Linked DNA regions of Homo sapiens: regions 2 and 3 are each linked to region 1. Evidence: fine-mapped expression QTL. A gene starts in region 1. Each other region holds a variant in brackets. All regions are shown on one strand. Distances are between the middles of the regions.

What was found. PIP is the estimated chance that this variant, and not a neighbour inherited with it, causes the effect. A credible set is the group of variants that fine-mapping cannot tell apart.
Region 2: its variant is the best candidate, but not a certain one, in a credible set for the expression of TMEM120A in whole blood (TOPMed, PIP 0.71).
Region 3: its variant is the best candidate, but not a certain one, in a credible set for the expression of TMEM120A in subcutaneous fat (FUSION, PIP 0.87).

What each region holds. Positions count from the first base shown.
Region 1 is chr7:75,990,804-75,999,060 of GRCh38, forward strand. TMEM120A (transmembrane protein 120A) reads right to left here and starts at 3,792. Exons shown (of 12, transcript NM_031925.3): 1 at 3,687-3,792; 2 at 1,636-1,754; 3 at 1,341-1,457. The coding sequence starts at 3,767. It overlaps STYXL1 (serine/threonine/tyrosine interacting like 1), which reads right to left. Exons shown (of 9, transcript NM_001317785.2): 9 at 5,539-5,796. The coding sequence ends at 5,665. RefSeq lists silencers at 228-522, 3,514-3,573, 3,584-4,033 and an enhancer at 1,273-1,332.
Region 2 is chr7:75,937,393-75,945,910 of GRCh38, forward strand. All of the region lies in intron 1 of POR (cytochrome p450 oxidoreductase), which reads left to right. SNORA14A (small nucleolar RNA, H/ACA box 14A) reads left to right here and starts at 6,391; the gene lies at 6,391-6,524. RefSeq lists an enhancer at 1-234. The variant T/C (reference allele first, on the strand shown) is at 4,257.
Region 3 is chr7:76,165,745-76,173,479 of GRCh38, forward strand. No RefSeq gene overlaps it. Among named protein-coding and RNA genes, the nearest start is that of SRRM3, 32 kb to the right of the region's middle. The variant CT/C (reference allele first, on the strand shown) is at 2,697.

The DNA.
Region 1 (8,257 bases):
CAGGAGAATCGCTTGAACCACGGAGACAGAGGTTGCAGTGAGCCGAGATCAAGTGACTGCACTCCAGCCTAGCGACAGAGTGAGACTCTGTCTCAAAAAAAAAAAAAAAAAAAAAAAGTCTCCTAGACTTGGCTGTCTCCCTTCCTTGGCTCTTCTGTCATCCCCAAGATCGACATCCATCCCCTTCCACCAAATGGTTCTGCCAAGATGACCCAACTTCCAGGAAGCGCATCCCCTTCCTTATCACAGGACTGACCCCAGGCTACGGACACTCCTTTCTTCTCCCTGCCTTCTGGGCCACGCCCTCTCCCAGCTATCTCCCTGCCTGCAGCCTCTGCTGGGATTTTTTGCTCAGCAGGGGGTTTTGCACTGCCCCATCCGTCCTCCTGGGTGACAGCTGCTGGCCTTTCCAGGTGCACATTCCACCGCCCCCGCCCGCCTACTGGGCTCAAGGCAAGAGCTGCAGCCCAGCAAAGCCTCTGATCTCTTGGCTGCCTCTCACCTCCCGCCCCGACCTCTGGCCACTACAAGTTCTCATGGCCCGTCCACCTGCTGCTACCTCTCGCCCTCAGCCCATGTGTCTGCCTCATTTTTTTTATTTATTTACTTATTTATTTTTTAAGACAGAGTCTCACTCTGTTGCCCAGGCTACAGTCCGGTGGTGCGATCTCAGCTCACTGCAGCCTCCGCCTCCCGGGTTCAAGTGATTCTCCTGTCTCAGCCTCCCAAGTAGCTGGGATTACAGGTGCATGCCACAATGCCCGGCTAATTTTTGTATTTTTAGTAGAGATGGGTTTTACCATGTTGCCCAGGCGGGTCTTGAACTCCCGACCTCAAGCGATCTGCCTTGGCTTCCCAAAAAAGTGCTGGGATTACAGGCATGAGCCACCGCGCCCAGCCTATTTGTTCTTTTTAAATAAATAGAGACATAGGGTCTCAGTATGTCACCCAGGCTGGTCTTGAACTCCTGAGTTCAAGTGATCCTCCCACCTCCATCTCCCAGAGTGCTGAGATTACAGGTGAGAGCCACCACGCCCGGCCCACTCTTTATTCTGTAAGACTCAGCCCACCCATCCCCTAATCCAGGAAGCCTTCTGCGACCTCCTGGACTGGGTCAGGTGTCCCTCACTGTGCCACCTCATTCCCCATGCTACAAAGCACCTATCACAGTGAAATGTCACTCTCAGCCAGGTGTCTCCCCTGAAGTCAGCACTGTGCCTCATTGCTCAGCCTGTACTGGGCCCAGGGAACATTTGCTGACTATAATGACCAAGAGGAGGCAGCACCCGGCTTCAGGAGTGGCTGTGAACTGAGCTGGGGGTGGCGGTGGGGGCCCTCACCCATTCTTCTTAGGCAAATAGGCCTCCATGTCAAAGAAGAGGCCTTGGCGCTCTTTCATCTGGTTCTCCAGCTCCTGTGCGGCCCCCTCGGCCTCTGCTGGGAGGGAGGGTTTGCATCTGCGGGTAAGGCCAGAAACAGTCAGGGCAAGAGGACTCCCAAGTGTCCTCCCTGACTCCCACAGGGGCAGAAGGGCAAACAGGGCCCAGAGAGGGGAGGGGCGGTGCCCAGGGTCTCACAGCGCCAGCCCTCCCACCCCACACTCTGCCCATGGCGGGTGGGGTAGGGGATCCTAACTTCTTCAGGGCGAGGGCCAGCTCCTGGAGCCGCTTCTTCTGCCGCGTGATGGAGCTGGTGCAATTGTTCTGAAGTTTGGTCAGCTCCTCCAGCTTCAGGCGGTAGAGCCGATGGGTCTCCTGGGGGCCGGAGGGGAGAGGCTCAGGCCAGTTGGGGAGCTACTGAGCCAGAGCCTGCAGGCAGGACGTGGCGCTCAGGCTCCCCCAGGGCTGCTGGGAGGGTTTCGCTCAGCGGGAAAGGAGGTAGAACTGTGCCTGCCCAGGGATGAGGTGGCTGTCTCCCCAAGGCAGGCAAGGACCTGGGTGTCCTCCTGTGAGCCCAGAGACCCCCACAGCACCCCTCCTCCAAAAACAGACTAGGTGTTTTTGTTTTTGTTTTTGTTTTGAGACAGTCTTGTTCTGTTGCCCAGGCTGAAGTGCAATGGCAGGATCTCAGCTCACTCCAACCTCCGCCTCCCGGGTTCAAACCATTCTTCTGCCTCAGCCTCCCAAGTAGCTAGGATTACAGGCACCTGCCATCATGCCTGGCTAATTTTTGTATTTTTGTAGAGACAGGGTTTCACCATGTTGGCCAGGCTGGTCTTGAACTCCTGACCTCAGGTGATCTGCCTGCCTCGGCCTCCCAAAGTGCTGGGATTACAGGCATAAGCCACCGCACCCAGCCAAGGTTTTCTTAGTCTCAGCCCATCTGCTAGTTGTCCCCACCCTACAAGGACAGACTCTTTCTCCTACCTTGAGTCTGGAGCTTAGGCCCCCAGGGCCACCTCCTGGACCAAGCAGGCAGCCCAGAGCCACCCCTCTATCCTCTCAGCTCCTCCTGCCTATCTAGCCTTCCAGTACAGGAGGAGCTCAGGTTCTCAGGAATCCCTGACATCTTCTTCCCAGGTTAAAGGTCATCAGGTTTCAACCCTAGAGCCTCCTGCTCTAAGGCCAGCCCCACTCCCTTCCCCTAGCACCTTTGGCCCAAGGATTCCCCAAGCACTTTGCCCTGGTAGGTGAGTCTCAAGAAGGCGCAGCCTAGAGATGGGGCAAGGGGCAGTGTGAGGAGAGCCAAGCAGGGGCTGTGGCCAGGACAGCGGCGGCCAGGCGGGGAGACTGGGTCTGCTCAGTCTCTGGGGAGAAGCACCAATGGCAGGGGCCTTGGCAGGGCCAGGGGCAGCTGGGTTTCAATGCCCACAGGAAGCAGTTGGAACCAGTCCAGGAGAGGCCAAGGGCTAACCAAGCCATCAGCTGGCCAGGGCTCTACTCTGTCTGGATCTTGTTTCTCATGCCCAGGAGGGGTCACCACGCCCCCTCGGACCCCAGCACGTGCCACTTCTGCCCACCCACAGCCACCGCCCTCTTCCCTGCCTGGATGAGGCCAACAGCCTCCTCCTCCCTGGCCTCTGGACAGAACAGCCACGGTGGCCCTGGGGAGCTCAGTCCAGACAATTCCTCCCGTAGCTTTCCACTGGCCTCGGAGGGACTCTGATCTCTGCCAGGCCAGAGCGTCCCTGCAGGGCCTAGCCCCGCCCACCCCTCCCACCCGTCCCACCCCTCCCCTGGTTCTCCTTGATGCAGCCACATGGGCCTGTCAAGTCCCCTCTTTCCTTCCAAAGGCCTCGGCGGCGCGCGGTATCCCTCTGCCTGGGGCGTCCCCCATCCAGGCCGAGGACACCCCCCTAAACGCTGCTCCCCCGACCTGGGCTGCCTCTCGGGCGCTGCCCGCTGCGCGTTTGCTGAGTGGCTGACCCAAGGCTGGGCCCGCCCGTGTGTGACTCAGGCGGCCGCTCTCTTCTGGGAAGGGACGGGGTCGGGGTCTGGGCCCCTTTCCAAGGCCCTCATTGGAAGCCGAGGTCGCCCAGCGCGATGGGGTCCCGCCGGGGTTCCCGGACACTGGAGGTGGTGGCAGTGGACACCAGGACCAGGGGCCTCGCCCCCCTTGGCAGTGACGCCAGGGCCCCGACCCCTGACCCTTAGCTCCCCACTGCCTGACCCAGGGCTGCCCGACCCTTGACCCTGAGCCAGCGAGACGCGGCTCGGGGGCGACCCGGCGTCCGCAGCGGCGCTAACCTGGATGTTCTGGAAGTCCTGCTGTAGATCCTCCCAGTCCCGCAGGCAGTCGCCCAGCGGGCCCGGGGGCGGGGGCTGCATGGCTGCAGCGCCAGTAGCCAGTAGTGGAGGACGGCGCAGCAACCCCGGCCCACCCGAGGCTCCTCCGCCACCGCCCCCGTCCGCTTCCGGGCTCGCGCCGCCACGGGCACCAATGGGGAAAGGCCACGCCCCCCACCCCAGCCAATCCGGGACAGGGGCGGGGTATGGGCGGGGCCGTATGCAAGGGCGGTTGCTAGCCCCGGGACTCGCGGCCTGGACCGGGACTGGGACGGCTGCAGCCCCCGGGCCTGGACTGCACTGACTGTGCCAGCCGCGTGGTGCAGCCAGCAGGGCTCTGGCCCGTCATGCTGAGAGCAAACCAAGGTGCAGGGAGGTGACACCTGCTTGCAACATTTTCGTCCTTGGGAAGCTGAGCCTCTTTGGGGAAGGGAGTTAGAGCTGCTTCTCTCGCTTGGATTTTTACAGCGGCCTCCTTTCTCCCTGCCTCACCTCCACTGTCCCTTCTCGCGGCCACCGGACTGCCCTTCCCAAAACACAAGGCTGATTCCCCATCATGTTCATGCTTAAAACTTTCCAGCGGCTGTGTCCTGCCTACCAGGAGGTCCCTAATCGGAGCTCTGCAGCCATCCCGGGCTCTGTCCCAACTCACACCCTGAGGAAAGCCAGGGCTGTGTGTAAAGCCGTTCCCCCTCTGGCAAAACCCCACTCCTCCTTGAAGGCCTGCCCTTCTGTTGAGGGGAATCCCCCACCCCCTCCCACCCCCATCCCTCCACAGAGCGCGCTAAGTGGTGGGACGGCATTCATCTCTCTGTTCCCAGCCCCACCCACGCGGTGGCAGGGAATGGTTGCCGAATGGACTTGGGGAAGGTCCTGCATGGATGGACATCCTAATCCCCTACCAGTCCCCTAGTCTGTGCCGTCTCCTGATGCCCAGTTTGTTCTGTGGGTGCTGCCAGCTTTGGAGAAGTGCATTTGGAAAACAACTTCCAACTGGGTGCCGTGGCCCACACCTGTAATCCCAGCATTTTGGGGAGGCCGAGGCTGGAGGATCACTTGAGCCCAGAAGTTCGAGACCAGCCTAGGCAACAGAGCAAGACCCTGTTTCTACAAAAATAAAAATAAATTAGCCAGGTGTGATGGTGCATGCCTGCATTCCCAGCTACTCACTCAGGAGGTTGAGGTGGGAGGATCGCTTGAGCCCAGGGAAGTTGAGGCTGCAGTGAGCCATGATTGCGCCACTGCACTCCAGCCTGAGAGACACAGCAAGACCGTGCCTCCAAAAAAAAGGAAAGGGGGTAAAAAAAAGGAAAACTTTTAAGACCTTAGGAATTTCTAGAAACGTGGATAGGGAGATGGGGGAGGGGGTGAGAATCTCTCCTTGGTGAACACAGCCAGGCAGAAATGAGTGGGGAGCAGGGAAAGAAAATCTGTTTCAAGGGGTGGATGGCAGGAAGCGCTGGGGATGAGGCAAGGGTGTGATCCCATTCTAGGAGCCTGGGGGCTAGACAAGGCTGGGCTTGGTATCTCTGGGACTAGGGGACTGCCTATTGGTGGCTATTGTGACATCCTCTGTGAACCAACACAGGCAACCTCTGGGTACCCCCAGGCAGCCTCCAAAGGGTCTAAGTCACCAGGGGGATGCAGGGCAGCTGCTCTAGCAGCCAGATGCTCTTCCAGAGGCAGCCTCAGGGGTGCAGTTGGGATGGCCCGCGACACCTCAGGGATGCGGGTTCTTGGTGAACCTGAGCAGGGCGCATCAGCTAGGTGGCGTGAACAGGCACTTGGGAAGAATCAGTACAGGAGGCTAACATGAGACTTTCAGGCAGCAAAGGCCTTCTCCTTCCAGACAAGCCTGGGTATACACACTCTGGCCCTCCACCCACAAAATGCCCCCAGGTGAGGCTCTTCAGTACCCTTCGGTGGGCCTCGGAGAAGATCAGTAGAGCGGATCCATGATGTTTGTGATGGAATCTCCAAGGATAGTCTTCTCCCATTCCAGCAGCTGGCTCACCAATCCCCGATTTGGACACATGTTGTTTTTGCACTTCTTGACATAGGCCCAGGACCTCTATGAATACAAAGAGAGAAAGTGAACTTCACGATTGGTCCTGGGCCCTTTCCACTTGGATCAGAGGCAGCTTTCAGAGACAGGAGGCACTTGCACAGTGCCAGCAACACGGCTTAAGGGCTGGATGCAGAAACAGGGCAGCCTGGCATGAATGCATCAGTGCTGGGAGTCATGGGAGCTGACTCTGCCTTGGGCAAGCCCCTCTGCTTCTAAATCTGGTGACAGAAATAATTCCTATTTCAAACAGCTTCTGGGAAGATTAAGACAATATACATGAAACCACCTGTGGATGGCAAACACTATGCCAAGCCTAGTGCAGTCTCAACAAAGGTTTGCATTGTGACTGGACAAATTAATGGAAAGAGGAAGAGAACTGTGGGCAAATTCTCTGAAGAAGAAAATTCAAGCTGCCCTCCTTCAGGCATCCACCTTAAAGTACAGGAAGTGTTGCTGCATGAAGGAGGGTGAGCACCTGGTCTCCATCTGGATTGAGGACAAACGAAAAAGGGAAAGGCAAGAGTGGTGCCTAAAACTAGGAACAGAAGGAAATGGCCAGGCACAGTGGCTCATGCCTGTAATCCTGGCACTTTGGGGGGCCGAGACGGGTGGATCACCTGAGGTCAGGAGTTCGAGACTAGCCTGGCCAATGTGGCGAAACCCTGTCTCTACTAAAAAAATGCAAAAATTAGCCAAGTATGGTGGCACATGCCTGTAATCCCAGCTACTTGGGTGGCTGAGGCAGGAAAATTGCTTGAACCTGGGAGGCGGAGGTTGCAGTGAGCCGAGATTGCACCACTGCACTCCAGCCTGGGTGACAGAGCAAGACTCTGTCTCAAAAACAAAAAAGGAAGGAAGTGATGTCAACCTGATAAAGGCCATATATGAGAAGCCCACAGCTAACATCACACTCAATGGCGAAAGATAAAGTTTTTCCTCTAAGATCGGGAACAAGGCAAGGGTGCTTGCTTTCATCACTTCTGTTCAACATAGTCCTAGAAGTCCTAGCCAGAACAATGAGGCAAGAAAAAGAAATAAAAGGCATCTACAATGGATAGGAAGAAGTAACCTTACCTCTGGTTTGAAGATGACATGATTTCATATGTAGAAAACCCTAAAGATTACACACACACACAACACACACACACAGCTAATAAATTCAGCAAGGATGCAGGATACAAAACCAACATGCAAAAATTAGTTGCATGTCTATATACTAAACAATTCAAAAAGGAAATTAAGAAAACAATTCCATTTACAGTAGCATCAAAAAGAATAAAATATTTAACCAAGGAGGCAAAAGACTTGTACACTGAAAACTCCAAAACAGTGCTGAAAGAAATTAAAGGTACAAACAAATGAAAAGACATCCTGTGTTCATGGGTTGGAAAGCTTAATATTATTAAGATGCCAATACAACTCAAAGTAATCCACAGGTTTAAGGCAATCCCTATCAAAATCCCAACAACATTTTTTGTAGAAATAGAAAAATCCATCCTAAAATTCATATGGAATCTCAAAGGACCCCATAAAAAATATTTAAGAAGAACAAAGTTGTAGGTCTCACACTTCCTGATTTCAAACCTTAGTCTAACAAAACTACAGTAATCAAAACAGTATGGTATGGACATGAAGACAAAGAGACTAGTGGAATAGAATAGCCAGCCTAGCCTAGAAATAAACCCTTACCTATATGGTCAAGCAATTTTTTTTTTTTTTGAGACTGAGTCTCACTCTGTTGCCCAGGCTGGAGTGCAATTGTGCAATCTCAGCTTACTGCAACCTCCGCCTCCTGGGTTCAAGTGATCCTTGTGCCTCAGCCTCCCAAGTAACTGGGATTACAGGCATGTGCCACCACGCCTGGCTCATTTTTGTATTTTTAGCAGAGACGAGGTTTTGCCATGTCAGCCAGGCTGGTCTCAAACTCCTGACCTCAGGTGATCTGCCCACCTCTGCCTCCCAACCTGCTGGGATTACAGGTGTGAGCCACTGCACCGGGCCTGTCAAGGAATTTTTGATAGTATGCCAAGACCATTCGATGGGGGAAAAGGACAGTCATTTCAACAAATGGTGCTAGGAAAACTAGATACGCCATGCAAAGAATGAAATTGAAAACAGGAAATCAATAGAGAAAATCAAAAAAACCAAAAGCCGGTTCTTTGAAAAGATCAATAAAATCGATACACCGCTAGCCAGGCTAACTTAAACAGAAGACACAAATTACTAATACAGAAGTGAAAGAGAAGACATTGCTACAGATCCCACAGACATTAAAAGGATAATAGAAGAATATTCATATCCACAAATGTGATTGATCAATTCCTTGAAAGACACAGACTGCCAAAACTCACACAAGAAGAAACAGACAATCTGAATAGGCCTACATATATTAAAGAAATTGAGTGGTGGCAGATGCCTGTAGTCCCAGTTACTCGGGAGGCTGAGGCAGAAGAATGGCATGAGC
Region 2 (8,518 bases), 53 kb before region 1:
ACCTGGGAGGCGGAGGTTGCAGTGAGCCTAGATTGTGCCACTGTACTCCAGCCTGGGGACAAGAGCCAGACCCTGTCTCAAAAAAAAAAAAAAAAAAAAAAAAAAGAAGGCCGTGTTTGGTGGCTCACGTCTGTAATCCCAGCACTTTGGAAGGCTGAGGGGGTGGATCACCTGAGGTCAGGAGTTTGAGACCAGCCTGGCCAGCATGGCGAAACCCCATCTCTACTAAAAATACAAAAATTAGCCAGGCGTGGTGGCAGGCACCTGTAATCCCAGCTACTCGGGAGGCTGAGGCAGGAGAATCGCTTGAACCTGGGAGGCAGAGGTTGCAGTGAGCCGAGATCGTGCCATTGCACTCCAGCCTGGGCGACAAGAGCAAAACTCCATCTAAAAAAAAAAACAATTGAGGCAAAAGTGGGGATGGTCAGGAGGATGAACCAGCGTGAACTCCTGTGGAGAGTTTTGTGCCTGTAAATCACCTTGTGCCACCTTTTAATGTTGACGCTGGATTATATCCATGCAATGCCCTGGAGCTTAGGGGAGCTGTGGTCTCGTCCCCTTGGCATTCAAGCCAAGGAGCCAAGGCCGCAGAGATGCTGCTAGAAGCAGGCACGGGGAGCTGCAGCTGCAGCATCAGCCCCTGTGGGCCTGGTCAGTTCGATTTGTGCTGAGTCATGCCCACTGTTCGCCTGCTGTCCCTCCTGTCCCCCCAGTCACGCTTGCACAGATCTGACTCAGCAGCTGCCTTCCTCCTTTCACGTCATTGCATCGGGCACATGCTGGTCATGTGTTTCTAAATTAAGTCCTGTTGTGTGGGGAAAAGGCCATCAGCTGGGAGCGTTTGGCCATGGCCATCTTCAGTGGAGAATGTTCTCCAGGATACCTTGGTGAAAGCCCCGTGACTGCATTGATATTAGGGGTGCAGGCATCGTTGTACAGTAGTACCTTCCTGTAGCAGCATTCTGATCACAGCACCCCCTTGCCCTGTCCTCACCAGCTTCCCCAGGGCCAAACACCTTAGACTGGCATACAGGCCCCTAGGCCCTTACGCACTCATCTGGGTGTCTCTTAAAAGTTTATCTCGGCCGAGTGTGGTGGCTCTTACCTGTTATCCCAGCACTTTGGGAGGCCAAGATGGGAGGATTGCTTGAGCCTAGGAGTTTGAGACCAGCCTGGGCAACTTAGTGAGACCCCATCTCTACAAAAAAATTTAAAAAATCAGCTGGTATGGTGGTGCATGCCTATGGTCTCAGCTATGCAGGAGGCTGAGGGAGGAGGATTGCTTGAGCCCAGGAGTTAGAGGCTGCAGTGAGCTGTGATCACACCACTGCACTGCAGCCTTGGTGACTCCAGCCTGTTCCGTGAATGAATGAATGCTTATCTCTTATTCGCCATCTATGCATCCCCACATAAAAACACATCCCATTGCACCACACTTGAGTTACCCCAGACCCCGAGTTTCTCGTGTTCTAGGCTCTGGTACACGCTTCCTCTATCGGTAGCTTCGCTCATCCCCCTAATCTGACTGGTGGACCCTGATCATTCTTCACAATCCAGCCCAGATGTTGGCCTCTGGGAGCCCCTTCCTTGACTGTTTCAGACTGTCATGCCTGCTTTTTCCTTCCAGCTCTATTTCCCCTGCACCTGGCCTCCCCATGCAGCCGTGACTGTTGGGATAGGTCTGCCCTTTCTCATAGCAGGAGGACACCTTGGGGCAAGGTTGGCATGTCTGCTCCTGCCTGAACCCACACAGTTCCTGGAGTGCAGCAGGTGCTCCTCAGCTGTTTGCTGCACGCATGGACGTAAGAGTGACAGAAGCATGTCCTTCGACATGACGTTTTTGTACCTGAACATTGTCTAGAGGCTTTCCAGACTGTAAGCTCTGTGGGATTAGGAGCCTGCCTGCCTCGCACTCCCTGGCATCCTTAGTGCTTTGGGCCTCACAGGCCAGCGGAGCCCTCGTGCGGGTTCCAGGCCTGCTTTGGTGGGAGTGCTCAGTACTTTTAGCCACACAGAGCCGTGGCCTGCAAGGCTTTCGGAGTACATCTCTAGCACATCTGAGAATCCGGAAGCAACTCAGAGTTTCTGGAATGGATTTCACAAAGTCTGTGAATAAGAAGGCCCCACAGGCCCTACTCAACAGCTTTTTTTTTTTTTTTTTTTTTTAAATACAGAAGATGCTAGTCTTCAAAGAACCTCTTTACTCTTTTACTCTTTTTCTTTTTTTTTCGAGACAGAGTCTCATTCTATCGCCCAGGCTGGAGTGCAGTGGCATGATCTTGGCTCACTGCAACCTTCACCTCCTAGGTGCAAGTGATTCTCCTGCCTCAGCAGCCTCCAGAGTAGCTGGAATTACAGGGGTGCGCCACCATACTTGGCTAATTTTTGTATTTTTAGTAGAGACTGGGTTTCCCAATGTTGGCCAGGCTGGTCTCGAGCTCCTGACCTCAAGTGATCCACCCGCCTCAGCCTCCCAAAGTGTTGGGATTACAGGCGTGAGCCACCGCACCTGGCCCTCTTTACTCTTATTATATAGTGATGGGGTCTTGCTTTGTTGCCCAGGCTGGAGTGCAGGGATACTCACTGCAGCCTCAACCTGCAGGGCTCAAGTGATCTCCTGCCTTACCTCCCAAATAGCTGGGACTACAGACCTGAGCCAACGCTCCCCACCTCTTTACTCTTATTTTATTTTATATTTATTTATTTATTGAGACGGAGTCTCACTGTGTTGCCCAGGCTGGAGTGCAATGGTGTCATCTTGGCTCACTGCAGCCTCCGCCTCCTGGGTTCAAGTGATTCTCCTGCCTCAGCCTCCCAAGTACCTGGGATTACAGGCACGCACCACCACGCCTGGCTAGTTATTTTTGTATTTTTAGTAGAGATGGGGTTTCGCCATGTTGGCCAGGCTGGTCTCAAACTCCTGACCTCAGGTGATCCACCTGCCTCAGCCTCCCAAAGTGCTGGGATTCCAGGCGTGAGCCGCTGTGCCTGGCTTACTCTTATCTTAGATATCACGCTAACAAGCAGCTGATTTCCCAATTTACGCAGATTCAAAGCAGCCAATTAGAAATGGGTGAGAGACTTTTGAAAAAAAACGTAGGCACTCTCGTGGCCGGGTGCAGTGGCTCACACCTGTAATACCAGCACTTTGGGAGGCTGAGGCAGGTGGATCACGAAGTCAGGAGATCGAGACCATCCTGGCTAATATGGTGAAACCCCATCTCTACTAAAAACACAAAAAATTAGCCGGGTGTGGTGGCAGGCGCCTGTAGTCCCAGCTACTCAGGAGGCTAAGGAAGGAGAATGGCGTGAACCCAGGAGGCGGAGCTTGCTGTCAGCTGAGATTGCGCCACTGTACTCCAGCCTGGACGACAGAGCAAGACTCCATCTCAAAAAAGAAAAAAGAAAAAACGTAGGCACTCTCATAATGGTGAGGGTCATCCTGCCTCAAGAAAAGACAAACACTATCAACAACAAAGATGCAGGGGCCGGGTGTGCTGGCTTACACCTGGAATCCCAGGACTTTGGGAGGCCAAGGTGCGAGGATCGCTTGAGCCCAGGAGTTTGAGACCAGCCTGGGCAACCAAGCGAGACCCCATCTCTACAGAAATAAAAGTTTTTAAAAAATTAGCTCGGTGAGGTGGTGCATACCTATAGTCTCAGCTACTTGGGAGGCTAAGGTGGGAGGATGGCTTGAGGCCAGGAGTATGAGGGTGCAGTGAACTATGCTACTGCTTTCCACCCTGGGTAACAGAGTGAGACTGTGTCTCTCAAAACAAGCAAACAGACCAAAAAGATGCAGGAACCTGAGATCCCACAGCCTGGGTTCCCTCTGTGTGCAAGCAACCTCTCCTGCCTCTTTAGGCCCTAAGTATGTTGTACAATGACACGATGGCCGAGTAGTCTACAAAAGGAACCGTGCGTGGACTCGAGACAGCATGGACATGGTTCACGTATTCCGGAAGTATTTCTCTAGCTGTGTAGAATTTTAGAGCTGAGGATGATCCTTGGTGACCAGCTCCATATTGCTTTGTGGAGAAGAAACCTGAGTCCTGGGAGGTCAAGTAACCCGTTCAGACTCCCACAACCAGAGCCTCCGGCATCTGTACTGCCCAGTCAGTACAGAGCTCCGGTAACTAGGTGCACTTCAGTTATCTAGAGTAGGCGCTAATAACTTATTTCTTGTCAGAGGCCAGGTAATAAATATTTTTTAGGCTTTGCATGCCAAGAAGTAAAATCTAGGATGTTATATATAA[T/C]GAGAGGCAACAAGTTTCCATGTTTTTTGTTGATGAAATTCAAATAAGGCTGGTTGCGGTGGTTCACACCTGTAATCCCAGCACTTTGGGAGGCCAAGGCGGGAGAATTGCTTGAGCCCAGGTGTTTGAGACCAGCCTGGGCAACTTAGCCAGACCCTGTCTCTATAATTTGAAATATATATTTTTAAAAGAAATTCGAGTAATAACTAATAACAGTTGAGTGCAAGTTTTTAATACAGGTTTGTTAATAAGAAGAATGGAATGATTTTTGTAGGGATAACAATTTTGGGCCAGGTGCCATGACTCACGCCTCTAATCCCAGCACTCTTGGAGGCTGAGGTGGGAGGATCGCTTGAGTCCAGGAGTTTGAGACCAGCCTGGGCAACATGGCTAACCCCTGTCTCTACAAAAAAATATTTAAAAAGTTAGCTGGGCATGGTGGGTAGTATACACCTGTAGTCCCAACTACTGTGGAGACTGAGGTGGGAGGATCACTTGAGCCCAGAAGGCTGAGGCTGGAGTGAGCTGCGATTGTGCCACTGCACTGCAGTCTGGGTGACAAAGCAAGACCCAGTCTCAAAAAAACAAAAAACAGAAAACAATTTTGTTTCATTGGGGTTCTGAATTAGTGTTCCCAAACATCAAAATCTGTTGCAAATATCCCCGTGTCAGTGCTCATCTGTAATGAGATTGTATAGGTGACATCTTTGAAAATATCTTTTCACACAAATAGGTACTGCCAAGTTATATTGGTCAGGGAGCATAAATTTTGATGGGGCATTTTAATCATTGGAAGACAGCATTTATAGATTTTTTTTTTTAGATTCCCCTCTTGATATTTGCCTTTTTGCATTATTGCATTGCAGATCAGCCACTTCCAATTGAAGGTTAGATGAGAGCTGCTCAATTGTACAGTTAAATGGATTTTAAAATATGGGAATTTCCTTCATACTTAGATCAAGATCTGAAAAACGCTGCTAGGGCTAGAACTAGCAGCTCAAAGTTTTTGTTTTTTTTGAGCTCAAGGTTTGAGCTCAAAAAAATGTGCAAAGGTTTTTCACTTGTTCTAACCTTGACAGTCTAGGAATTGTATGGCGCAGGTTGACATTACTTGTGATTCATACAATGTTAATTTCATTGAAATGACTTTACCGCAATATAAGTTTTGCATATAACTGCTGTTTTGCCTTATAATTTTAGATTGGCCTCATTAAGAAACATCAAGTCTGCAGCAAAAGCTAATTTCCAAAGCGATTTAGTATTTGGTAATAGTGGTTGAGGGCAGTTCTTTCTTTTTTCTTTTTCTTTTTTTTTTTTTATTGAGATGGAGTCTTGCTCTGTCACCCAGGCTGGAGTGCAGTGGCATGATCTCGGCTCATTACAACCTCCACCTCCCAGGTTCAAGTGTTTCTTCTGCCTCAGCCTCCTGAGTAGCTGGGACTACAGGCACGTGGCACCACACCCAGCTAATTTTTTGTATTTTTAGTAGAGATGGGGTTTCACCGTGTTAGCCAGGATGGTCTCGATCTCCTCACCTTGTGATCCGCCTGCCTCGGCTTCCCAAAATGCTGGGTTTACAGGCATGAGCCACCGTGCCCGGCCCTCTCTTTTTTTATTTTTTATTTTTATTTTTAGACTAAGAGGGCAGTACTTTTCAGTTATTCTTGTTCAGAAAAGATTTAATATTCACTCTGAGCTCAAAATAGTCACACCAGACTTTACCACTGCTAAGCTGCTGAACTGCTGTATGGTAGGCCAGTTAGGATATTCAGCTTCTATTTTTGACAAAAATCCTTAAGACCAACTTAGGTTAAGTCCATGAGAGCAGATACTGTTGACATTCCCTTGTTCGATCACATATAATAGATTCAAATTTTTTGCATAATATCTGCTGGTGAATAATATAGTGAACAACCATAGGCTCCAACTAAGCCTTTTTCTGCCCCCCACATTCATTATAACACATCTTAGTGGATTCCATTTCAGATTGTACTAAACTTTTCTCAACTTCTTTGAAAATGCTCTTATTTGTAGTTGTTTCATGCTAATTCTTCAAACTTGGTATTGACTCCCCAAGTAAACAACAACTGAAAAGTATTGGTAACGTCTTTAGATTCATCAAGAGCCAAGGAATTGCATTCTTAAACCCTCTTGGTGGCTTCCCTGTAAATGCTTCCAAGATATGAGCGAATGCTATAGAAATTGCAGGAAAGTCCAAAGGGCTGCGCGTCTCCTGTGGCTCAGTCTTATTTCATACCTGCAACATCTTTTAAGGGAAATTTGCAAAAGGGAGAATTATCAACTTAAAAAAAAAATAGCCAAGGAAACCTCGACTCTTCAAGGAAGCAAGGAAACGTGCTCTCCTTGGGAGTGACATTAGAGGAGGCCCAGTGTGAGTCAGGACTTCATCACCACCTGGCGGAACCAGGGAGCCCCACCCCATGTGTCAGTGGAGATCATGTGCTGTCTTCCCTCTCCAAGCTAGGGTTTGTCAGCAGAGGCCCAGGAGGGAGACTGAATCTCGCCTGACAGCAATGAACTGATACCTTCCTTCCCTATAAGCAGGTGACAGACAATATTTAATAAAATCAAAAAAGGCTGGGTGCAATGGCTTACACCTGTAATCCCAACACTTTGGGAGGCCAAGGTGGGTGGATCACTTGAGGCCAGGAGTTTGAGACCAGCCCCAGCAACATGGTGAGACCCTGTCTTTACTAAAAATACAAAAAAATAAATTAGCCAGGCGTGGTGGCACACGCCTGTAATCACAGCTACTCTGGTGGCTGAGGCATGAGAATCAGTTGAACCTGGGAGGCAGAGATTGCAGTGCACTGAGATCACACAATTGCACTCCAGCCTGGGCAATAGAGACAGACTCTGTCTCAAAAATAAAATAGGCTTAAATAAGATTCAGGATCTTAAAGTACCCAGAATGCCCAGAATACAATAAAAATCAATCACTATACCAAGAACCACAAAACTCTCAACTTGAATGAGAAAAGAGAGTCAACAGACACCAGCATCAGGATGACACAGATGTTGGAATTAAGATATAGAGAAGAATGAAACAGATGTCTTAGAACCGAAATATACAATAGTCAAAATAGGAAACTGAATGGATGACTCCACAGCAAAATGGAGGAGACAGAAGAGAGAATCCATGAACTTGAAGTTAGAGCAGTAGAAATCACCTAACCTAAACAACAGAAAATAGACTGAAAACCAAAACAAAACAAATGAACAGAGCCTCAGGATTTTGTGGGACTAATAACAAAAGATCTGACTTTCATGTCACCCAAGTCCCAGGAGAAGAAGAGAAAGAGAGTGAGGCTGAAAAGTTATTTAAAAAATAATGGCGGCCGGGCACGGTGGCTCACTCCTATAATCCCAGCACTTTGGGAGACAGAGGTGGGCAGAATCTCAGGAGTTCATTACCAGACTGGGCAATGTGGCAAAACCCTGTCTCTACTAAAAATACAAAAATTAGCCAGGTGTGGTGAGGCACACCTGTAGTCCCACCTACTCAGGAGGCCTGAGGCAGGAGGATCCCTTGAGCCCGGAGGATCCCTCAAGCCCAGAAAGTTGAGGCTTCAGTGAACAGTGATTGCACCACTATGCCTCCAGCCTGGGTGATAGAGCAAGACCTTGTCTCCTAAAACAAAAAAGAAAAGAAAAGAAAAGTTGCTATATTTTGCAAAAGACATAAATCTACAGATTCAAGAAACTGAGTGAACCCCACAGAAGGTAAACACAAAGAAATCTGCACCAACATCTCAGTACAGATAATAAACTTCCTGGGTACTCTGGCTATTGTGGCTGTGGAGCGATCTGTCTGAGTCACTCTTGGACACTGCTTTTTAACAGGTCACCTTGGAGAGTGTAGTGTTCCCCGAGTACCTCTCAGTCCCTGTGGGTTGCGCTGTCAGGCAACAGTAGGGTATGGTTCCATGAGGGTTTTCCCTCATCTTGAAGCCACTAAACCTTGGCAGAGGGGCTTGTGAACCTGAATGACCCCGCTCCCCCTGCAGCCAGAAGGTGCAGCCCCTGGTGCCAGAGCCTTGTCTAGGTGGCCCTGACATGACAGTGACAGCTAAAGGGTTGACTAAATTACAAGTTTTATTCTTTCCTTTCTTGTTACTGCTTTGATTGGGGTGTCTGACTCACCCCAATATCAGTGCTGAGTTGGTTGCTCAATCTTTTTTACGGACCAGAAGTTGCAAACAGTAAATGCAAAACTGCAAATACTTCCTGGAAGATAACCT
Region 3 (7,735 bases), 170 kb after region 1:
CTGGACCGAGGAGACGCAGGGGCAGGAAGGAATGGGCCTCAAACTCCAGGAGGGGGCCCTTCTCATGGGTCCTGCTTTCTGGCCTCTCCTCTCTTACCCCTGGGCTGATCACCCTGGGAAGAACTAAGCCAAGGTTTCTCACCCTCAGGTCCGAGGGGTTCAATTAACGGGCCCTTAGGGAGGTGCGAGCCTCCTGAAACGATGCAAGGTGCCTGGCCTAATTTTTATATTTTTAGTAGAGATGGGGTTTCACCATATTGGCCAGGCTGGTCTCGAGTTCCTGACTTCAAGTGATCGGAATGCCTCGGGCACACAAAATGTTGGAATTACAGGCGTGAGCCAACGCGCCCGGCCAGCCCTATTTATTTAAGCCTATACATTTTGCACTTGTTAAAAGTATTTGAACATACAATTACCATGTTTTCTTTAAGCGGTCCCTCCCTGTTGCACACTTGGATAGTTTATTTTTTTAGACAAGGTTTACTTCAGTCTCGCAGGATAGAGTGCTGTGATGGGATCATAGCTCATTGCAGCCTTGAACCTTGGGGTTCAAGTATCTGGGAAGCTGAGGAGGGACTACAGAGATGGAGTCGCGCCATGTTGCCCAGGCCGCTCTTTAACTCCTGGCCTGAAGGGATCCTTCCGCCTCGGCGGAGCCCGGACATAGTTTTCTAGTTTTGACCCACAGAAACACTGTGCTGGGTCGGAGTTTGTCAACTACCCTTCTCCAGCCAGCAACACACAGAACATGGCGGGGAAGTCACGGTCACCAGGCTCCAAACCGAGGAGAAAACAGCCCAGCTCCAGGCACTGTAGCGTCACTGTGACATCGCCGAAGGCCGGCGCTATTACGTCGCCGGAAGGCCCGCGCCTGTGACGTCAGCGGAGGCGCGCCCCTTCTGTAGAACCAATCGGAACTCGAGGCGCGGCGGCTGGGTATTCCAGGAGAGCGCATGCGCAGACGCGTGGCCACAGACTGCCGGTCAGTGTCAGTAGGCGGCGGGTTAGTGTCCGCAGGCTCCGACTCGGCCGCCGACACCAATAAGCTACAAGGACGAGCTTTACCACTGCCTGTACTACTGCTACCTGCGCGACTTCCCAGCCTGCGGCGTAGGGCGCAGCAAGGGCCTGACGCTGAGCGAGTAGGCGCTGCGCACCAAGCGGCTGTGGCCCGGAGGGCACTGTCGGGCAGAAGCTCCTCAGTGGCCACCACAAGCCCGCTAGCTCCGGCTACAGCCCTTGCCGCACACTCGCGTCACCTGAGCCTGTGTAGGTGCGCCCCCCCAACTCCTCCCCCAGCCAGGTCCCGGGGACACCGGCAGCGTCCCCCACCGCCCGGCGCCGCTCATTCTGGGCAGGATCGGCCCCGTCTGAGGCTACACCGCATTAGGGAGCTGCACCCCTCGGCTTGACCTCTCATGGCCTTTGCAACAACATCAAAGCCTTTGGAACTTTGTAGGGGGTACGAGGGGCTAGGAAACCAAGAAAACATCTCTTTAAAAATATAAGCGATCGGGCCGGGCACGGTGGCTCACGCCTTTAATCCCAGCACTTTGGGAGGCCGAGACAGGTGGATCACGAGGTCGGAAATTCAAGACCATCCTGGCCAGCATGGTGAATGCCGTCTATACTAAAAATAAAAAATTAGCCGGGCGTGGTGGCGGGCACATGTAATACCAGCTATTCGGGAGGCTGAGGCAGAGGCAGAGAATTGCTTGAACCCGGGGGGCGGCGGCTGCAGTGAGCCGAGATCGCGCCACTGCACTCCAGCCTGGGCGACAGACCGAGACTCCAACTAAAAAAAAAAAAATATATATATATATATATATATATATATATATATATTTGGAGCCCGGGAGGTTGAGGTTACCGTGAGCTGAGATTACGCCACTGCACTTCAGCCTGGGTGACAGAGGGAGACCATGTCTCTAAAAAAAATTACATGTGAGTGAGAGCTTTTCTTCCAGTGCTCATGCTCAGACTGAAGAAAGTAATTGGGCCGGCCTGGTAACTCACGCCCTTAATCCTAGCACTTTGGGAGGCCGAGGTGGGCAGATCCCTTGAGCTCAGGCGTTCCAGACTAGCTTGAGCAACATGGTGAAATTCGGTCTCTACAAAAATACAAAAAATTAGCTGGGCGTCGTGGTGGGCGCCTGTAGTCCCAGCTACTCAGGAGGCTGAGGCAGGAGAATGGTGTGAACCCGGGAGGCAGAGCTTGCAGTGAGCCGAGATCGCGCCATTGCACTCCAGCCTGGGCGACAGAGTGAGACTCCATCTCAAAAAAAAGAAAATGGAAACTTTTGCCAGTGATTCCCTTCCTTCAAACTAATGATAAGGAAATGACGCTGTTCTGTTTTGTTTTCTTTTTGCATGTTTTTTTTTCTTTTTTGAGAGAGGGTCTTGCTCTGTTGCCCAGGCTGGAGTGAGGTGGCGCAATCATGGCTCACTGCAGCCTCGACCTCCCAGACTCAAGCAATCCTTTCCCCAGCCTCCCAAGTAGCTGAGACTGCAGGTGTTTACTACCACAGTTGGCTAATTTTTGTATTTTTTGTAGAGACAGGGTTTCACCATGTTGCCCAGGGTGGTCTCAAACTCCTGGGCTCAGCTATCCTCTACCCTCGGCCTCCCAAAGTGCTGGGATTACAGGCGTGAGCCACTGTACCTGGCTGATGCTGTTCTTTTCAAATGCATATTTA[CT/C]TTTTTTTTTTTTTTTTTTTTTTTTGAGATGGAGTCTCACTCTGTCTCCCCAGCTGGAGTGCAGTGGTGCAATCTTGGCTCACTGCAGCCTGGTCTTGAACTCCTGACCTCAGATGATCCACATGCCTTGGCATCCCAAATTGCTGGGATTACAGGTGTGATCCACCACACGTGACGATTTTGCTCATTTTAGATACTAGAACTTGTTAATTAAAAAAATATATATATTTTTTGAGCTGGAGTGCAGTGGCATGATCTCGGCTCACTGCCACCTCCGCCTCCTGGGTTCAAGTGATTCTCCTGCCTCAGCCTCTCGAGTAGCTGGGACTACAGGCACATGCCACCATGCCCAGCTAATTTTTGTATTTTTAGTAGAGACAGGGTTTCGCCATGTTGGCCAGGATGGTCTTGATCTCTTGACCTCATGATCCACCTGCCTCGGCCTCCCAAAATGCATGAGCCACTGCGCCCAGCCAAAAAAAAATTTTTTTTTGAGGCAAAATCTCACTCTGTCATGCAGGCTGGAGTACAGTGGCACAGTCACAGCTCACTGCAGCCTCGACTTCCTTGACTCAGGTGATTCTCCCACCATAGTCTCCAAGTATCTGGGACTACAGGTACACGCCAGCACACCTGGCTAATTTTTGTTTGTTTGTTTGTTTTTTGAGATAGAGTCTCACTCTGTTGCCCAGGCTAGAGTGCAGTGGCGTGACCTCGGCTCACTGCAAGCTCTGCCTCCTGGGTTCATGCCATTCTCCTGCCTCCACCTCCTGAGTAGCTGGGACTACAGGTGCCTGTCACCACGTCTGGCTAAATTTTTTGTATTTTTAATAGAGACAGGGTTTCACCGTATTAGCCAGGATGGTCTTGATCTCCTGACCTCATGATCTGCCCGCCTCAGCCTCCCAAAGTCCTGGGATTACAGGCATGAGCCACCGCGTCCAGCCCACACCCAGCTAATTTTTTTTTTTGTATTTTGTAGAGAAGGTGTTTTGCCATATTGCCCAGGCTGGTCTCAAACTCCTGGGCTTCAAGCGATCTTCCAGCCTCAGCCTCCTGAAGTGCTAGGATTACAGGCATGAGTCACTGCTCCCAGCCTTTTTAATTCAATTTAAATTATAAATGTGATCGCTATAGAAAATATGTGTATTATTTATCTGCTGCTATGTAACAAATTACTCCAGACCTAGTGGCTTAAAATAAATACTTAGGGCCAGGCACAGTGGCTCATGCCTGTAATCCCAATACTTTGGGAGGCCGAGGTGGGCAGATGGCTTGAGTCCAGCAGTTTAAGATCAGCCTGGGCAACATAGTAAGACTCCATCCCTACAGAAAATGCAAACATTAGCCAGGCGTGGTGGTGCACACCTGTGGTCCCAGCTACTCAGGAGGCTGATGGGGGAGAATCACTTGAGCCCGGGAGGAAGAGGTTACAGTGAGCCAAGATCACAACACCGCACTCCAGCCTGGGTGACAGAGTGAGACTCTGTCTCAAAAATAAATAAATAAATAAATAAATAAATAAATAAATAAAATACTTACTTAGGATCTCCATTTCTGTGGGTCAGGAATTCAGGAGTGGCATAGCTGGGTCATTTGGGCTCAGGGTGTCTCATGACATTGCACTCAAGCTGTCCACTGAGACTGCAGTCACCTAAAGCCTGTTTCCAAGATGGCTCCCTCATGTGACTGCTGACAGGAGGCCTCAGTTCCTGTTACATGAGCCTCTCTACAGGCTGCTTAGGTGTCATGGTGTGACAGCTGGCTTTCCCAAGTGAGTAATCAAAGAGTGAGCAAGGAGGAAGCCACAGTACCTTTTATGATGTAGTTTGCAAAGTTGCAAGCCATCACTTTTGCTTTTTCCTATCTGTCAGAAGGGAATCACGTAACCCAGCTCACATTCAAGGGGATAGGGACTGGGCTCTGCCGTTGAAGAGGGTATCAGAGAATTTGGGCACATATTTTAAATGACCATACTATGTTTAATTATTGCAAGTACGGTCACTGTAGAAAAATTGGAAAATAGGGACAAGCAAAAAAAAAAGTCACTTGTAATTCCATGAATCAATGGATAACATTACTAGTTGGGTGTATATAATTCCAATATTCAAAATATATATTTTCTCAAAATATAAACACACTATATATACTGTCGTGTAATCTGCTCTTTCACCTAATGTATTGACTATATTATAAAAAATACCTTTCATTTTCATGTCAAATATTCTTTCCTTTTTTTTTTTTTGAGACGGAGCTTCATTCTTGTCACCCAGGCTAGAGTGCACTGGTGCGATCTCTGCTCACTGCAACCTCTGCCTCACGAGTTGAAGCGATTCTGCTGCCTCAGCCTCCCTAGTAGCTGGGATTACAAGCATGAGCCACCATGTCGAGCTAATTTTTTTTTTTTTTTGAGACGGAGTCACTCTGTCACCCAGGCTGGAGTGCAGAGGTGCAATCTCGGCTCACTGCAAGCTCTGCCTCCTGGGTTCATGCCATTCTCCTGCCTCAGCCTCCCGAGTAACTGGGACTACAGGTGCCCGCCACTACACCTGGCTAATTTTTTGTATTTTTTAGTAAAGACAGGGTTTCACCGTGTTAGCCAGGATGGTCTTGATCTCCTGACCTCATGATCCACCCGCCTCGGCCTCCCAAAGTGCTGGGATTACAGGTGTGAGCCACCAAGCCCGGCCGAGCTAATTTTTTTTGTATTTTTAGTAGAGACAGGGTTTCACCATGTTACTAGGCTAGTCTCAGACTCTTGACCTCAAGTGATCACCCACCTTGGCCTCCTGAAGTGCTGGAATTACAGGCGTGAGCCAACGCTCCCGGCCTAAATGTTTTTTCTTTATTTATTTGAAGAAGTTCTTTATATGTGAAGCTCATTAACCTTTTACCTGCCACGTGGAGTGTGTCATTTGTCTTGTTTTTGATTTTAAAAAACTATTCATTCCTAGATGGGCATTACCCTTATTAAACAACGAATAGAATATGTGATATCCAATGATACATTTAAGACAAGACAACCAATATCTTGATGTACATAAAGACAAACTTCAGAAGACAAATATTAAATGTTTTAACATACATTTGAATAAACTTTACTTACAAATTATTTAACTGGAAAAGGAATTTGTGTTCAAAAAATGTTTTCACTGATGGAAAAATAAATCTAACAAAACCAATATGTGAAAACATTGATTTACAAAGCCAAAATATATTATATCTTAGTTTCATTTCCTATATACCCTCAATGAGGTCTCCTCTTTTTTTTTTTTTTTAACGGAGACAGAGGTCTCACTATGTTGTCCAGGATGGTCTTGAACTCCTGGCCTCAAGTGATCCTCCTGCCTCGGCCTCCCAAAGGACTGGGATAACAGGGCTGAGCCACTGTGCCTGGCTGAGGTTCTCATTAAAAGAAAATAGGCTAGGCGCGGTGGCTCACACCTGTAATCCCAGCACTTTGGGAGGCCGAGGCGGGCGGATCACGAGGTCAAGAGATCCAGACCGTCTTGGCCAACGTGGTGAAACTCCGCCTCTACTAAAAATACAAAAAGTAGCCTGGCGTGGTGGCAGGCGTCTGTAGTTCCAGCTACTCGGGAGGCTGAGGCAGGAGAATGGCGTGAACCCGGGAGGCAGAGCTTGCAGTGAGCCGAGATTGTGCCACCGCACTCCAGCCTGGATGACAGAATGAGACTTTGTCTCAAAAATAAAAAAAAAAGAAAATAAAGGCCAGGAGCGGTGGCTTATACCTGTAATCCCAGCTCTTTGGGAGTCTGAGGTGGGTGGATCACCTGAGTTCAGGAGTTTGAGACCAGCCTGACCAACATGGTGAAACCCCATCTCTACTAAAAATACAAGAAATTAGCTGGGCCTGGTGGCAGGCACCTGTAATCCCAGCTACTCAGGAGGCTGAGGCAGGAGAATCGCTTGAACCTGAAAGGCAGAGGTTGTAGTGAGCTGAGATTGTGCCACTGCACTCCAGCCTGGGTGACAGGGCAAGACTCTGTCTCAAAATAAATACACGCCCATGCCAGGCCGGGCTTGGTGGCTTACTCCTGTAATCCCAGCACTTTGGGAGGCCAAGGTGGGTGGACCTCTTGACCCCTGGAGTTTGACACCAGCCTGGGCAACATAGTGAGACCCTTGTCTCTACAAAAAATAAAAAGTTAGCCGGGCGTGGTGGCTGGTACCTGTGGTCCCAGCTACTTGGGAGGCTGAGGTGGGAGGATTGCTTGAGCCTGGGAGGTCAAGGCTGCAGTGAGCTGTGATTGCACCACTGCACTCCAGCCTGGACAACAGAGTAACACCTTGTCTCAAAAATACAAACATGAGGCCAGGCACGATGGCTAATGCCTGTAATCCCAGGACTTTGGGAGGCTGAGGCAGGCAGATCACCTGAGGTCAGGAGTTTGAAACCAACCTGGCCAACATTGTAAACCCCGTCTCTACTAAAAATACTAAAAATAATTAGCCAGGTGTGGTGGCACATGCCTATAGTTCCAGCCACTCAGGAGGTTGAGGCAGGAGAATCACTTGAATCCCGGAAGCGGAGGTTGCAGTGAGCCAATATTTGTGCCATTGCACTCCAGCCTGGGCAACAGAGCAAGATTCTGTCTCAAAAAAAAATACATGGATGCATATATACATATACATACATACTACATGCATACATACATACCAACACCAGGTTCAATGCCTGTCCTGAGTGCCCACCAGACCCTGCCCCCAGCAATCAGCTTGGCTACCATCCACCAACACCCCCCAAGCACGTTCTGACCTCTTAGGAGCAGGGGTGGGCCATTTCTCCCAGAATCCCCAAATCATATCAGGCCTCTCCCCGCAGTTCTCTTGGAGGGAGGGAATTAACCAAATCATCCGTCCCAGGGTTCCTGCCACCTTCATTCCCCAGCCCCCAACTCCAGATTCTTAAGCCTTTCCAGGCCCTGCAGGTCTCAGTCTCCCACAAGCAGTGATCAAAACCCCACTGTGTCAAGCTCAGGAGCCCTAGAGCTCCCAGATGGTTAAGAAGGGGGATCCC